Linked DNA regions of Homo sapiens. The protein of the gene in region 1 purifies or fractionates together with the protein of each later gene. This does not show direct contact. Each region holds a gene or a part of one and is shown on either strand. Other genes may lie near its edges.

Evidence for each region. The genes of interacting proteins can lie anywhere in the genome.
Region 2: the proteins of FNBP1L (region 1) and ATP6AP2 purify together in Homo sapiens (affinity purification with western blotting, with the first as the bait; one study listed by BioGRID). This does not show direct contact.

What each region holds. Positions count from the first base shown.
Region 1 is NC_000001.11:93,531,562-93,535,215, forward strand, and holds part of FNBP1L (formin-binding protein 1-like), read left to right. Parts: intron 1-1,360; coding exon 1,361-1,507; intron 1,508-3,143; coding exon 3,144-3,347; intron 3,348-3,654. UniProt on the Homo sapiens protein: Required to coordinate membrane tubulation with reorganization of the actin cytoskeleton during endocytosis. May bind to lipids such as phosphatidylinositol 4,5-bisphosphate and phosphatidylserine and promote membrane invagination and the formation of tubules.
Region 2 is NC_000023.11:40,601,316-40,604,969, forward strand, and holds part of ATP6AP2 (renin receptor precursor), read left to right. Parts: intron 1-3,654. UniProt on the Homo sapiens protein: Multifunctional protein which functions as a renin, prorenin cellular receptor and is involved in the assembly of the lysosomal proton-transporting V-type ATPase (V-ATPase) and the acidification of the endo-lysosomal system.

The DNA.
Region 1 (3,654 bases):
TACACTTTTTCTTCTTTATAAGGCAAGTTGGAAATACAAAGAAAGCACAGTGAGAGATAATGAACTGGAGTGGGGACCAGAATTCTGGTCATTGAATCCAGAGGGCCAAGCCTGCCAGTCTTCACTGTGATGCTTTTCTAGGCTTAGTAGTTAAGTCTTCATATTCTGGGGAAACTATAACTTGTGGAGATAAACTACCTTTTGTGTTTTGGGCCTGATACTTGGATTTGGACCTTTCTATGGAGCAATTCTGTGAAAATGCAGGTCTCAAAGTCCCAGGCTGTGGGAGTTTGGGGAGACAAGGAGTGTAACTGCTGTCAATGAAACAGCAAGGTCAGTGCTGGCAAATAGGATATGTCAAAAAAAAAATGCCTTTAAGTTATTGGACTTTATGTGTTCCAACATATTTCCTAGTGGCATGTGCCAGTGAATTTTCAGTTGTGAGGATTCTATATGTGCCACTTTGAGCTTGTGACTTCCTGTTTTTCCTCACGTATCCCCAGCTCTGAGGTGTACACTGCAGTAGGTCTGGGTACCTGTTGATAAACAACTAGTATGGACTGTTGGTCCAGCCAAGTCTTACCAAAGTATCCTGAATTAACTTGAGGTTAGAAGTCTCAGACTTGGCCGGGGGCAGTGGCTCACGCCTGTAATCCCAGCACTTTGGGAGGCCGAGGCAGGTGGATCACGAGGTCAAGAGATTGAGACCATCCTGGCCAACATGGTGAAACCCCATCGCTACTAAAAATACAAAAATTAGCTGGGCATGGTGGCACGTGCCTGTAGTCCCAGCTACTTGAGAGACCGAGGCAGGAGAATTGCTTGAACCTGGGAGGTGGAGGTTGCAGTGAGCCGAGATCGCGCAACTGCACTCCATCCAGCCTGGCGACAGAGCGAGACTCCGCCTCAAAAAAAAAAAAAAAAAAAAGTCTCAGTCTTGTATATGTTATGGGCCAGTTGCTTTAAAAAAAAAAAAAAGCACCAGAATTTTGTCATCAAATGAAATGTTTTCTGGAAGCATAAACAAGAACTACTCTGATTGAATAGTAAAAGGTGGGAGTGCTATGGGGCAGGGAGCTGATAGCCAGTAAGGGGTCCTTTTAGAAGGCTAGAATCCCAGTGTCATCTGGTTTTAGGAAAACAATACTAAGTGCCTTACTATTTTTTTTCTTTCTTTTGTTGTTTAGCATGTCCCAGGTTTTAAGTATTATAAGTCAATAGCACTTGTTAAAAGGTATTAACAACAGTGTAACTATGAGGGTAGAAATATTTAATTTTTGATGGGGGATCACTAATTGAACTCCTTTAGAATGATTGAAAAATTCAGTTTTCTCTTTTTAAAAAAATTCTTGATTATTAGCAACTACAAGAAATGGACGAACGAAGGACTATTAAACTCAGTGAGTGTTACAGAGGATTTGCTGACTCAGAACGCAAAGTTATTCCCATCATTTCAAAATGTTTGGAAGGAATGATTCTTGCAGCAAAATCAGTTGATGAAAGAAGAGTAAGTGCTAAATAATTATCTTTGAATGCATCTGTTTGGTTTAGGTGTGCAGTTTAAGTTAGTGAAATGAGTTGAGAAAGGGATAAAGTAATCTGATGTGTGGTTCTAAATTATATTCTGTAGAAGAATGTCTTGCAATAGATTCCTTTGAGTTCTGAGATTCATTCTACATGCAAAAGTTCTAATTCTTTCTTAAAAAAAAAAAAAAGATTTCTAACTCTCTTCTCCCACTAAGTTTTCAGTTCTTATCAAAGAGTCTAACCTAGGAACTGTGTGTTACAAATTGTGTTATACTATTATATTAGTTTAGTGAAAATTTAGAGAAGTATGTGGTTAGAGTTGCCTTTAGCACTTGAGCTGGATCAAGAAATGTGGGTAGCATATGGAGTGATGACCAATGAGGAGGAGGAAGGAGGGCATTATGTGCAGATGAAACAGCATAGCCCTCCTCCCCTTGAGGATAGGTAATCACATTGTATCTTGATTAAGGACTAGGGTCTTTTATCTCAGTAAATGTTGATTGAGTGATCAAAAAGCATGGTTGGCAGAAACTGAGGAAAGGCAGTGGCAAGAGAAGAGAACTGGTGTTTGCAGGATATCAGATATGTGTCACATATTTTAGTCTTCATGAACCTATCAAGTAGATATTATATTAGTGAGGATCCTTTCTGTTACAGCTAATAGAATTCTCACTTAAATTTAGAAAAGAGGATTTTTGGCTTTCAGCATGGCTGGATACAAGTTTATACAATATCATTACAGCCCTCTTCTCTCTAATTACCCTTTAGCAAATTATTGCTGAGGGTAGCATTACTGACAAAAGTAAGCTATGACTTAAGGATGACTTTTGACTAAATGAAGGGCAAAATGTACTGTTAACAGAAATAGGCAACAAAAGAGAGGTTGTTGTTAGGGGTGGGGAGGAATTTGTAGAGATACTCTGAAAATAATGAGTTTAAGGTATCACTAAAGCATTCAGGTAGAGGTATGTATGTCTAAAAACAATATTTATGTGAGTTTAAAAATTTTAAATACATGGTATTAAACTTTCAAATGTTGTTTGCACTCAGTAGTGTTTATGAGATCTTTTCCCTGTTGCTCTGTTAACATTCCACAGTATATATTTAATTTATTTATCTTTTCCCATGTTGGATGAGTTAGAAAGCCTTTCCTACTCATCTTTTACTCTCTTTTACAATTAGATGTTCTTTCCTCATTCCAAAGATTAGCTTCTTTGTTGACATCTATCTTTTAAAGCAAAAAGCCTTTTTCCTTTGAAACTTCTCAGAATTTCTACTTGTTAATAACCTCTTTCTGTATTCTTTTTGTCAGTTAGGTCTTTTTCAGCTAAGTAGTCTTCAGATGAATTTCAGGTGGTTAAAGCTACCAAGTAAAAACATTTTATGAATATTATAAATTAATTAAGTTGTAATTTGCAAGTATATTTTTCTTTTGGGATTAAAATACTTTGAGTTTGTTACACATTCATGGGAATAAATTATTTACCTTAATGATTATTGTGGAATTATTTATTTAAACTTATATTTGTTGTTTTTTTGTACTGAAAAAGTTATGAAAGCTGATGTAGAATTATGAGCAAGTGAAACAGTTTTAAAACCTAGTTTCTTTTGTATAGGACTCTCAAATGGTGGTAGACTCCTTCAAATCTGGTTTTGAACCTCCAGGAGACTTTCCATTTGAAGATTACAGTCAACATATATATAGAACCATTTCTGATGGGACTATCAGTGCATCCAAACAGGAGAGTGGGAAGATGGATGCCAAAACCACAGTAGGAAAGGCCAAGGGCAAATTGTGGCTCTTTGGAAAGAAGCCAAAGGTAAAAGTCATAAAATTCCTATATGCTAATCAGTTTAAGTGTACCAACTAAAACAATGTGGGTATTGAATGCAAAATGATTTACCATTAATGGAGAATAAATATTTTCAATTTGAATGATTCAGTTAACCTTTCACTTATATTAGGAATACCTTAACAGTAACAGTTATTTATGGATTTAACATTTGACTACCGCTTAATAATGGGTAAGAGTATTAACAAAGTTGTTAATATCTAGTTAAGTTATATGCTTTTGAAGTTTCATTTGTATGTAGTTTCCATCAGAATTTTTAAGGAAACATGATCTA
Region 2 (3,654 bases), on another chromosome or scaffold:
GTGAATGTGTGCGGGAGTGGTGTGGTGCCCACATCCTATGGGCTCTGCTTTTCTAGCAGGCACATTGTCTTTGTGGCGTAGTCCCTCACTTACTGAGATCCTCTGTGTGCACCTCTTTATGATTTTGATTTACTTAACAGTTTTTTTGGGTATGGATCTTGCTTTGATTTTAAGCATTTAGAGGGTCAGGGTTAAGCATTACCATGGTTGCTGGCCATGGTAAAATACATATCTGTTTATGTGTATGTACGTGCACATTTACATACATACATATATACTTACAGCTGCAGCAGAACCTAGGGAGGGTGATGGGAAAGAGTAGTGTAGATGCTCCCTAACATCCTACGTCTGAGAACATTGCTTAGGGCTGGCTGTATCACTTGCAGCAGATAGATATCCACTCAATTACATACACCTCCGCTTCAGACCCATTTGCAGCCCTCACCCTGCTCAGTTTTACTGAAGTCAGTGTGGGACTTGGAGTCGGAAGGTCGAAGCCAGTGCCTGTTTGAGATAGTCTAGCGATTACTGGTTTGAGATTGTTTCTTTCTAAATTAAATTGGGGATGGAAGGACCTTTGTTTCAGACAGCATGTCAGTCTAGACAACCACCCAAGATTTCCCACCATAAAACGTCTAGAAATGCTAGATAAAAATAAAGATCTTTTAAAAAGTACATAGTTTGGGCTGGGTGTGGTGGCTCACGCCTGTAATCCCAGCACTTTGGGAGGTTGAGGCGGGCGGAACACCTGAGGCCAGGAGTTCTAGACCAGCCTGGGCAACATGGTGAAACCCCGTCTCTACTAAAAATACAAAAATTAGCCTGGTGTGGTAGCGGGCACCTGTAATCCCAGCTACTTGGAAGGCTGAGGCAGGAGAATTGCTTGTACCCGGGAGGCAGAGGTTGCAGTGAGCCAAGATTGCACCACTGCACTCTAGCCTGGGAGACACAGCAAGACTCCGTCTCAAATAAAAAAAAAATTACAAAAATAAAAATACATAGTTCAGCTCGCAAGAAAGGGAAATTCTCTTACAGAGTAAATAAAGAAGAGGAGGCCGGGTGCGGTGGCTCACACCTGTAATCCCAGCACTTTGGGAGGCCGAGGTGGGTGGATCACAAGGTTAGGAGTTCGAGACCAGCCTGGCCAACATGGTGAAACTCCGTCTCTACTAAAAACACAAAAAATCAGCCGGGCGTGGTGGCGCACGCCTGTAGTCCCAGCTACTTAGGAGTCTGAGGCAGACAAATCGCTTGAACCCGGGAGGCGGAGGTTGCAGTGAGCTGAGATTGTGCCACTGTACTCCAGCCTGGGTGACACAGTGAGACTCCATCTCAAAAAAAAAAAAAAAAACCGAATGTGGTAAGCAGGCCGCCCTAAGGATATTTGCCAGCTGGGTCACCAAGAGTCCTTTGGTGCCTTGTGTGTGGGGGATGGGAATGGACAACTCCAGATAAAGCTGGGGACCCCGAGAGAGCTGTGCCCTCAGTGAGAGGGTAGACTGGAAATTTTTGCCCACCAGCACAGGGAAACAGAAAGGCACCTGGGCTCTGGGTGGTCAGCACATGTGTTGAGAGTGGGGATGCCTCCCAGAGAATTCTTTTTTTTTTTTTTTTTTTTTTTTTTTTGGATTTTTTGGAGATAGGATCTTACTCTGTCACCCAGACTGGAGTGCAGTGGCACAATCTCAACTCACTGCAGCCTCCACCTCCCAGATTCAAGTGATTCTCCTGCCTCAGCCTCCTGAGTAGCTGGAATCACAGGCATGCACCACCACACCCGGCTAATTTTTGTACTTTTAGTAGAGATGGGGTTTTACCATGTTGGCCAGGCTGGTCTTGAACTCCTGGCCTCAAGTGATTTGCTCACCTCAGCCTCCCAAAGTGCTGGGATTACAGGTGTAAGCTACCATGCCCGGCCTATGAGATTTCTTTTTAGGGTGATAGAAATGTTCTAGAATTAGATTGTGGTGATAACTATGAAACCACTAAAATTCCTTGACTTGTACACTTAAAATGGGTAGGAAAAAGAACATGTTTATCAAAAAAAAAAAAAGGAAAGAAACAAAGAGGTCTTCATGGGCGTGAAATCCTTTAACGTTTGCCTCAGCTCTGAGCTCCCCGCAGGTAAATATGCATGCCTGTGTACCCATTCTCTCCTACATTTGAAATCACTCTCTTCCATTAGTTTAAGGAGACAGGAGTTTAAGGAACATTTACTGAGTACTCACAACATTCCAGGTGCTGGGGCTGTAGGGACAAATAGATCTCGGTTACATTTTCGTTCTCATCCTCACTGCCAGGCACCCTGCCCCCATTTCTCCCACCTCATTTGACTGCCGCCTCCTAACTTGTCTGAACTCATCTGTCTCTCTGCTTCCCAGCTGGCTCCTCCCAAATCCATCCTACACATTGTCATCAAAGTTATCTTTTTTCTTTTCTTTTTTTGAGACAGGGTCTCGCCCTGTCCCAGGCCGGAGTGCAGTGGCGCAATCATAGCTCACTGTAGCCTCAAACTCCTGGGCTCAGGTGATCCACCTGTCTGAGCCTCCTGAGTAGCCAGTTCTATAGGCTTGAGCCACCACACTCAGCTAATTTTTAATTTTAATGTTATCTTTTTAAGACAAACCTGATCATGTCACTCACTTTCTGCCTAAAGCTTGTCAATGGCTCCTTATTGCCCAGAGGCTCATGTCAGATTTTCTGTAGCTTCCCTGCTTCTAGCTTCATCTCCTGCTGTGTTCCTACTTTTAAAATTCTCTAGCCAGAATGAATGATATTTCCCAAACAGTGCCTTTGTCAGAATGAATTCAGTTTCCCAAACAATGTTTTTACACAGCTCTGTATTTTAAAAAAAAGTGTTAAGTGGATCATACATACATAAGTATATAACATATTTAATACTAGTTATTTAAATAATAAAAATAATAACACTGTATAGCTCCGTTTTCATATGGCTATAAAGAGCTACCTGACACTGGGTAATTTATAAAGGAAACAGGTTTGATTGATTCACAGTTCCACATGGCTGGGGAGGCCTTAGGAAACTTACAATCATGGAGGAAGGGGAAGGGGAGGCAGGCACCTTCTTCACAAGGTGGCAAAAGAGAGAGAAAGTGGCACACTTTTAAACCATCAGAGCTCATGAGAACTCAGTATCATGAGAACAGTATGGGGGAAACTGCCCCCATGATCCAATCACCTCCCACCAGGTCCCTCTCTCGACACGTGGGGATTACAAATCGAGATGAGATTTGGGTGGGGACACAGAGCCAAACCATATCAATAGCTTAAGAGAATGCTTGCTTCTTTGAAGCTCCCTATTTTCTCCCTCTACCCTCCCTCATCCAGAGGTAACTGCTGTCCTGGATATCATGTTAATCCCTTGCTTTTCTTTACAGATTGACTGCATATGTATTTGTTCTTAAACAGTGTTGTTTGGTTTTGCCTGTATTTGAATTTTATATAAATTGAATCATACTACATGTATTTTTCTGTGTTCTTTGTTCAGTATTCTTTTTAAGATTCACTCAGGCTGACAAATGTAGCTGTAGTTTAGTCATTTTACTGTTACATATTCTGCTTGTAGGGATATACCACAATTCCATTCTGTTGATGATTTTTTTTTTTTTTTTTTTGAGACGGAGTTTTGCTCTT